Linked DNA regions of Homo sapiens. The protein of the gene in region 2 purifies or fractionates together with the protein of the main gene of each other region. This does not show direct contact. Each region holds a gene or a part of one and is shown on either strand. Other genes may lie near its edges.

Region 1 (3,171 bases), on a different chromosome or scaffold from region 2:
GTTTGTGTCAGGCCCTATGCTCAAATATTTGTAATATGAAGGTGAGTCATCATTCCTCATTTAGAATTTTTCATCATTTTGAGGCAACTCGGTCATAAGCTTTTACCTTGTTTAAACTTGGTATCTTTGGAAAAATGTCCGGCAGTAGAAGGAAGAGTTGTAGATGCAAGTTCTTACCTTCTGCAGACCATCGATTTCATTTGGCAGCAGCACAATCATGCTTAGATCTTTGCCTTTGTATGGTATTTCCAGGACCTTGGCCTGTACATCCTCCAGCAAGGCAAAATTAAAGGAATTGTATTGCCTCATCATCTGTACAGATTTGTATGTATTCTGCAATAAATCAATGTGTCCAACAAATAACACGTGAAACACAAGACAAAAAAGATAATATTATTGAGATAGCAACACATCCTTCTTCTTCTAAGAAATAACCCAGGAATTCCATGAGTTAGAAACAATAGTTTTTCAGGTATTCCTAACTAAATAAAGTTATAAGAGTAAAACAACAAAATAACAGACATGAACAATTTTTATTTTTTACTTATCATGTTACATTCCATCAGAAATGTTTAACATTCCATGTATTAACATATTACACTATATAAATAAAATATAGACAATACCTTGTTTGGCCAAAATTTTTCCTCTTTAGTGTTTTCTTTTTTAAATTTATTCTCCCACTGCCCTTTGAAATAGATTGCGTTCACAAGAACCAGTGTCGTATCATTGCCAATAGTCCCATCAGGAAATAGGTTTTTAATTTTTTCTGCAAGGGAAAGAATAAAAGAGTCTTTTACACAAGCTACAAATGGCTTGTCTGGAAGATGCTTTGCAAATGTTCGTGACTGATCGTTAATTATTGACCCAAATCCCTGCTTGAGACTCACTGACTTTGATCTTTGAATTGTTAGACTCACTGACCAGTGGTTCACCAGATGCAGCTTTCTTCAAGGCTCCAGTCGTATAAAGTTACCCTTGATGGAGACATCACTTCTTGTGATAGAGAAGGAGTTCACGTTCTCTGTGTATGAATGTCTCCAATCATCTGATTTGGAATACTGATAAACTGATTTTGTCTACTCTTCCAACATGTGTCTTTCCTTTCTCCCTCCCTCCTCTTCCTACTTTTATTTTTTTTTAACTACGGGGTCCCCATTCAGAGGAAGGAGGCCCTGATTGCATTTTAGGATGAGTGACTTGAGCTCTGTAATATGAAACGCATGTCCTGTGCTGTCAGACACTACTTCCGGGGGTATCTTCCTATTCACTCTCATGTTGAGTTGCTGTAAGTTTGGCCTGTAATGAGAGGTGGGAGGTAAGAAAGATGTCTGTAGAATGGAGACTTTGTCAAGCTCTTTGCCCTTGATGGGGAAGAGAGCTGTGATAATCCCTGCAGAACACATTGGCTACAGATGTGATCCAGGCAGCTCCAGCTCAGAGACAAAAGGGTGATTTACCAGAGAGCTGCTTGTTTCCCAATTAGTAAAGGAGACGAGAGACGCTTTCTAATGTTTTCTATTAAATATTCATCATAAAAATTTGAGTCTGATTTAAAGTAAAGGATATGATCTCAAAATAGGCCTGAGCGGAGACAGGGGATCCACAAAGCTATTGTCATGCAGGGCCATAAGCAAATAATTCTCCAGATGTGTTTCCATCTAATTGGCTTCCTGTGATTTCCTCCTTGGCTCCCCTAGGCTCTCTTCATATTCATTTGGACAAATCCTTCATCTGGAGTGCCCTCTTCAGCCCTCCCTGCAAACCCATCTCAATCCCCACACCTGTTCCCCCATGCAGTGTCAAGCACAAGGCTCACTGGCATAGGTTTCTCAAAGGTGTTTCTATAATGGGTGGCTCTCCTACCATTCGTTTGACTTTCCACCCAGGAGTTAATCTTCTTTCGACTTTCTTCTGGAGCATTTGCAAAATCAGTAGATTCCACACTGGTCTGGTAAAATTTCTTGATGGCATCTAAATATTCCTTTGAGATATGAAGGAAGAAGTAGGAATTAGGAGTAATTTATGTAACTATATATTACCAAACTTACTTATTTGTAACAACAGTAAGCTGAATCCAGACCCTGAATAGATGCAGTATCTCCTGTCCATGGATATTTTTATACAGGTGTCATGTAGGCAATGCAAAAGGGGAATGTGGGCTGGCACAAGAAAGAGGTCACTGAAGGTCAATATCATCTTGGCAAAAGGCAGAAGCAGAAGAGGCTGTGGTTTGCAAACTGCAGAGCAGGCTTCCCTGAAGGAGATTCATTGCTTCTCAGACTTCTCTCCAGTAATTTTAACCATGATGTTTCTGATCTTTGTTTTTGTCTTTCATCCTGTGCATTCAATATTTCCTGGTACTTCCTCAACTATTCTCAGGAACTCACCCAAGCCTGCCCATTCCAATAATATCCCATTAGTCATACATTTCCCACCAAGATGTATCGTATGTGACTGAGTCAGTGCCAGTTTATCGATGGTATCTTATTACTTATTACTCTTACTCACTCTATTACACAACCTCCTCTTTTATCACAAGATTATCCCTAAATCCACACTTCAGTGATGTATCGTTGGGGTCTGGGACACTCCAGTGGGGGAGAGTTGTGGAAATGGAGCTAATGCACTCTGAGTAAATGCTCTCCACCTGAGTCGGCCAGGCTCATCTGCCTTGCTTTCTTCCATTTGGCCACTCAGAGACACAGACATCAGGATGCAAATGAAATGTGGGTAGGCCAGGTGAAATTACCTGTAAAAATTGATACGTCTTTTCTCCGAAGAGCTTGTTGGCGATCTTCAGCTCATATGCATCAGTGGATTTGTTGAATTCAGTCAGAAGCTTTTGAAACTGGTGATGAACATTTCCTGACCTATCAACCTTCAAACATCAAAAAGGGAGATCATTCAATTGCTGTATCAATGTAAATACTAAACCCATGCTAAGTCTGTTAGATCAGTCCCTAAATGCTGGTAGTCTCATTGAGGACCTTTGATGTTATTCCCTGATAATTGGTGTATTTCACCTCAAATACCCTTCAAAATCCACCTTATATTTGACTTCTTCCAGAAAATTCTTCTTGCTCTAACGTACTGCAATCTTTTCTCTTCTGAACTAAAGATGCAGCGCTGTCTACCAGTAGATTTTCTCCTTGTTGGTTTAAAGGGTTA
Region 2 (5,344 bases):
GGAGCGAGGACGCCCTGGCTTCCATGACACGGGTAGCTCCTTTCCCAAGGCTTCAGTGCTGGCAGGTGTGGACGCTGGAGGTCCCTAGTGTCAGGCTGAAATCCTGTTCCTCTGCATTCCCACAGGCCCAGCTCCCAGTCCCAGGGCTTCGGGGGAGGTCCCTGGTATCCCTCCACAGGGAGACTTCTGAGGACAGGCTCCCATTCCACCACCCCAAGAAGCCCACGGCGCCTTCCCTACCACACGCAGACAAAAAGATGTCTGGGCTCCTGGGTGGCGCACTCAGGAGGCTGTAATATGAGCAATGCAAATGGAAAAAAATCAGTGCTCGGTAATCCACTAAGGCTTGGTGGAAATGGTCTGTGTCTTTTACAAGGAACTGGACACTCTCATGAATAGTAACTGCCATTGTGAGGCCTGTTTAGAAAAAGGCATTGTGGGGAATGGAGAAGTTCTTCAAAGTTTCTTGAAACCATAAAGAGCTTGTCATTTCCTTGCTCTATGTATATCTCTATATATGTTCCAGTGTAGCTGCTCCGCCTTGCCCCGGCACGCCTGCGCAGGGCTGAGCGAGCCCTGGACCATAGTGCATGCTCTTCCTTATTTGGAAACTCTCCTGACCCTCTCATGACTAGCTTCCTCTTTTCTTTGTCCTCTTTCCCTTTTGCCTATTTAGGAAAGTTTCAAGCTGTTAGCCAATCGGGTCAAGCTTAGAATGTGAGGTCCCATTCCAGTCAATGGAAACTGGACACAGTCATAGGGCAATTGCATCAGGTTATGAAGATTATAAATGTCCTCGTCTCCTTTGTTTGAGTGTGCTCTCGTGGTAAGACTGCTGGCGAGTTGCACCCTTTCTGCAGAAAGTAAACTAGCCTTGCTGAGCCATCCATTGCCTTCCCGACGTGATAAACCCGTTTCCAACAGGTGTCTCTGCACAAACATGGATTCAGCACTTTCCAAACACCCACCCTGTTTTAGGGAGCAGGCTCTTTGCAGCAGGCACAGAGGGCCCTGGGAAGGCCTGGGTTTCTGTCTCTTCTCTGGCGGCCAGCAGGCAGCTGCCCTTTGGGGTTTCCTGAGGTCCTGGAGGATTCTGGTTTGGGGAGGGTTCTGGGGCTGTAGTCCAGAGAAAGCCCCAGATCCTCAGGGAGCTGTCTAGTAATGTGACCACTCGCCCGCCAGCATTTAGCAAGCTGCTGCTCTGTGCCAGGCCCATGCTAGGCGGCAGCGACACGGAGGAGCGGGGGCGGTTCTGCCCAATGCTGCTGCTGCTGTTACTCCTCCTTTTGGGTTTAACTCACGTCTATTTTTATGTCCTGATTACACAAGGAACACATGTTCATTGTAGGAAAATCAGAAAAACATATAATAGGCATTCCAAATATATGTGTCATTCAAAAGAAAACAAAATCACTCATCCCCCTGCCCACTAATAACCACTTGCAACACGGAGGGATCCAAACATCCTTCTCATCTTCTCTTAGAGAGCTCAGGCCACACGCATAACTCTTCCCAGCAAGAGCATTTTCTCCTAAGTGTGTGACTAGTGAAAACGGCACCAACACGTACCACAAAGGGAAACCTACTGTCATTTACTTCTGGGGAGGAGTTCTTACCTGTCTGTTCCGAACTTTTGACTGTCAGCTCATATGTTAAATCTAAAAGGGAAATGTTACACATTAATTCTTTTACTGTACATTTCAAAATCTTCATCAGCTTTGAAAATGCAAAACCGATTCCCACGATTAGCCAGCGAGTCCTACCCAGACAGAGCAGGGTTTGGCAGCAGGAGAGGTGAGCATGAGAGCAGCAGAAAACATCTGCGGCCACTGTGCTCCCTGGGGTCAGAGGGCACCCTCTGTTCCCCCAAACTCCCTTCCCCATTCCCCCACAGCATATCCCAACCATCCAAACCAAACAATCCAGCAGCTGGCTCTATGTATCACACAGGCTATATCTTGGTTATCAGTTCCAAAACACATTGGAGATTCTAACCATTGTATTTTAATCTCTTAAGTCCTCAGTATGCCAAGAAAAGGCTTTGCAGCTTTATGCTTAGTGCATCTTGATTATGCAATGAGGATGATATAAGGCATTCAGATGGACTCCTGCAACGATGATGGGAGCTGGGGGCAGGGCAGGCCTAGCACATTCTGACGCTGGGCTCTGCCGTGCCCCATAGCCGCCCCCCGCCTGCCCGGGCCTGCTCCCCGATGTACCTGTGCAGTGCTGCTGCAGCCGCCTGATCTCGGAGTGCAGCCCCTTGAGCGTGCTGGCATGCTCCCGCTGAAGGAACAGGAGGTTCTTCTGTGCGCTGTGCAGCTGGTTCTCCAGGTTTGTGGCTGCCATGCTGACATCCAGAGGACCTGTGGGTAACACAGACCCTGGCTGCGGTGCCTGAAGAGGGTCCCAGGGCTGCCTGCCCTCCTTGGCTCTGGGTGCAGAGGGGTGTGCGCCTCCCAGGAGAGAGCAGAAGGAAACCACGGCTCCTGAAGGGCAGGGTGTGGGGGCACCAGGGCTACATTCCCATCACTGCAGGGAGGCCCCAGGCCAGGGACGGCAGCCTCTGCTTCCCGAACGCCTTGGGGTGTGCCCTAGCACCTAGCACGATGCCTGGCACATGAATGAGTGAGGCCCACTCCAGAGTACAAAGTCATTTCCCTTTACTCATGAGGAAACAGATCAAGAGAGGCAGATTCGCGAGCCTGGGGTCACACAGCCAGTGAGGTATGGAGCAGGGATTCTAATCCAGGGACCCTTGGTTCCAAATCCTGTCCTCTCCACGCACCACCTCACCCCAACAGACTGTGACTGACCAAATCACGCCCAAAAGATTTCCCTGACCAGGAAGCACTGACAGCTTCCTCATGGGAAAAGCTGGCACCTGGGAAATGGGCCAAACATTTCCTCTAAATGGCATCTGGAGCCAGCCAAAGTAGGAGGGAGAGATGGGCTGAATTCCAGAGGGAAGCCCCCTGCACTTCACAGCACTGAGAGGAGCCACAGATCCTTCTTGGGAAGGTCTGAGAACGTATCTCATGGGGCCAGGGGGTGGTGCAGGTGTCTGGAGTCTGTCCCCAATGCTTGGCCCCTCCCAGCCCCAGCTTCCAGCATCTGATGCTCACTCAGGGCCCCAGACTCTACCTTCATCGTAACTCGAGAAATGTGGTGAAGTCATGGGTCTTTCTGGAAAAGCTACCAGAGTAATTCAAGACGCTTGTACAGCACTGAAAAATACTGAGGATGAAATGTGAGTTATTTGCTTATAAATTATTATTGTAAATACAGAACCTCAGAATGCATTTTCCCTAATTTGCTATTCCAGAGAACCCTCCGTAAAGGAGGTACAACTTCTCAATGGCTCCCAGGACGCAGCCCATTTGTAGGATGCCACAGTGGAACCGTTTTGGAGACACTGACACACCCAGGCTGTCACTGCTTCAGACGACACCAATTGCTCATCAATTATCTGTACGACCAGTGACATGCATGCACACTAGCTCTGGAGCTAGGACGAGTTCATAACGAACTTCAGACATACACTTTCATCACACGAAAACACTTCCTGGGCGCTGCTCCGGTGGAAAGCCACAGACTCCACTCCGAGGGCAACCTGAGAACGCAGAGAAGGAAATAAAACACGACGGAGCTCACGAAGGGGAATGAACAATGATACATCCTAAAAAGGACCAAGAAAAAGAGAAACAAGAGGCCCTTTCAGTTGGGGACAAAAACTGGCAGGAGAGGGCAGTGGCCCCAGGACACGGCAAGTACAGTCTCGGGGGGCACCTCACCACGGGCAGTGATTGGGCAGAGCTGATCAGAAGCCTTGGAATTGGTCATCTCTCTGAACTAGCAATTTATTTTTAGAAATCTACCAAAGGGAAATTATTACTTTTGTGTGAAAAGAGGTAGCTGTGAGAATGGTCACTACAGTGCAGTTTGCAGTTGGAAAAGACTAGAAACAAACTCAAAACCCGACAATAGGGAGTGGGTTAAATAACTTAAGGCGACCATTTCTAGGCATGTTTCTATAAAACAAAGCATAGCTCTCCCTGGCCTTTGACTGCCGTCGCACTGGGCTGCAGATGATGGCAGAGTTGAGTTTCCATCAAGCAGGGCTTTCCTCAGTGGAGCCGTGAGCAGCATTCCGGCAGGAGTGAGAAAGGATGTTTCTGTCCCCGAAACCGTCTCTGTGCTGTAACCGCAAACTCTCCTGTGTAGGCTGCTGGGCCAGACACTAGTTTCTAAGTGGAACCCCACAGTTCCCGAGATCCCAACACTGTCTGCACAGCACGTGGTCTTGGGGGGCGCTGACCTTAACAAAGGAGCCAGCTACAACCAAGGCAGGTTCAGCGTGTGGCACACGTGTGCCGCGTGCTTGCTGTGGAAAGGGTGAGCACCTTCTGACCTTGCCCTTCCCTCACAAAGCAGAACGCTTGAAAGCGGAACAGCCTCAGCGTCAAAGGAAGGAAAATCCCAGGAGCGCCTGAGAGCTGTCAGTAGCGGTGCCTACGTTTTCCTTCCACTCAGCAATCCGGAGTCGTTCACTCTGGCATCAATTCCAGCACCTCACCTGGAGGCTGAATCCCGAAGAGCTGAAAGGGGTTTGGAAGTGGGAACTCTAGCAGAGATGCTTTCAAAGGACAGACTCAAATCCAGGATTCTGTTGGCTGATGGAAGAAGCAGAGCCCATATGTTAGTGGCTTGCTGTCAAAGAGAAAGAACCATTTAAATGTGATCCAGAATTTAGTGGGTCTTGGATGACAGGAGAGCTGCCCTAGGCCTAGTGTCCTACCCCTCACAAGCACTGTCCCCAGCTGCACAACCTGGGGGTGGCCTTGACGCTGGCATCCCCCGCCATCCATTTCCAGTCCATGATGATCTTGCTGGCATCCTGCTTTGAAAGCAGCTCTCAGATCCGTTCAACTCTCCCCGTCTCCGCTGCTGAGGCCGTCCTCACCCTCACCCAAATCCCTGCCAGAAAGCCTCCCTCTGTCCTCTCCTACCTGCTCCATTCTGCTCTCCACGTGGCAGCAGAGTGATCTTGTTTTTAAATTGAGACTACTTAAAAACCTCCAATGGTTCCCACTGCTCTGAGAATCAGACTGGTCTGCCCGGCCCTGCAACTGGCCCCGCCACCCTCGCTGGCCCTTCTCCTACCCCCAGGGCTCCAGGTGGCACGAGCTTTCCTCCGGGTGCCCTGCTGGGCTGTGCTTCTCCCACCCTGGTGCCCTCTCATGGCTCCTCCTCTGCCCAGAACACTCTTCTTAGGCCTCTCTCCCACCCACCTCTCCTGGGTCTCCACTGTCTACTTATCCTTTAGGTCTCAGTACAAGTTTAC

What was found. Proteins that work in one complex are often made in the same cells at the same time.
Region 1: the proteins of CCDC92 (region 2) and SERPINB4 purify together in Homo sapiens (affinity purification with mass spectrometry; 3 studies listed by BioGRID and IntAct, with this or other methods). This does not show direct contact.

The regions. Positions count from the first base shown.
Region 1 is NC_000018.10:63,639,008-63,642,178, forward strand, and holds part of SERPINB4 (serpin B4), read right to left. Parts: intron 2,882-3,171; coding exon 2,753-2,881; intron 1,985-2,752; coding exon 1,867-1,984; intron 770-1,866; coding exon 627-769; intron 334-626; coding exon 178-333; intron 1-177. UniProt on the Homo sapiens protein: May act as a protease inhibitor to modulate the host immune response against tumor cells.
Region 2 is NC_000012.12:123,941,128-123,946,471, forward strand, and holds part of CCDC92 (coiled-coil domain-containing protein 92), read right to left. Parts: exon of another isoform or gene 4,577-5,344; intron 3,614-4,576; exon of another isoform or gene 3,542-3,613; intron 3,238-3,541; 5' UTR 3,179-3,237; coding exon 3,145-3,178; intron 2,367-3,144; coding exon 2,220-2,366; intron 1,659-2,219; coding exon 1,617-1,658; intron 1-1,616.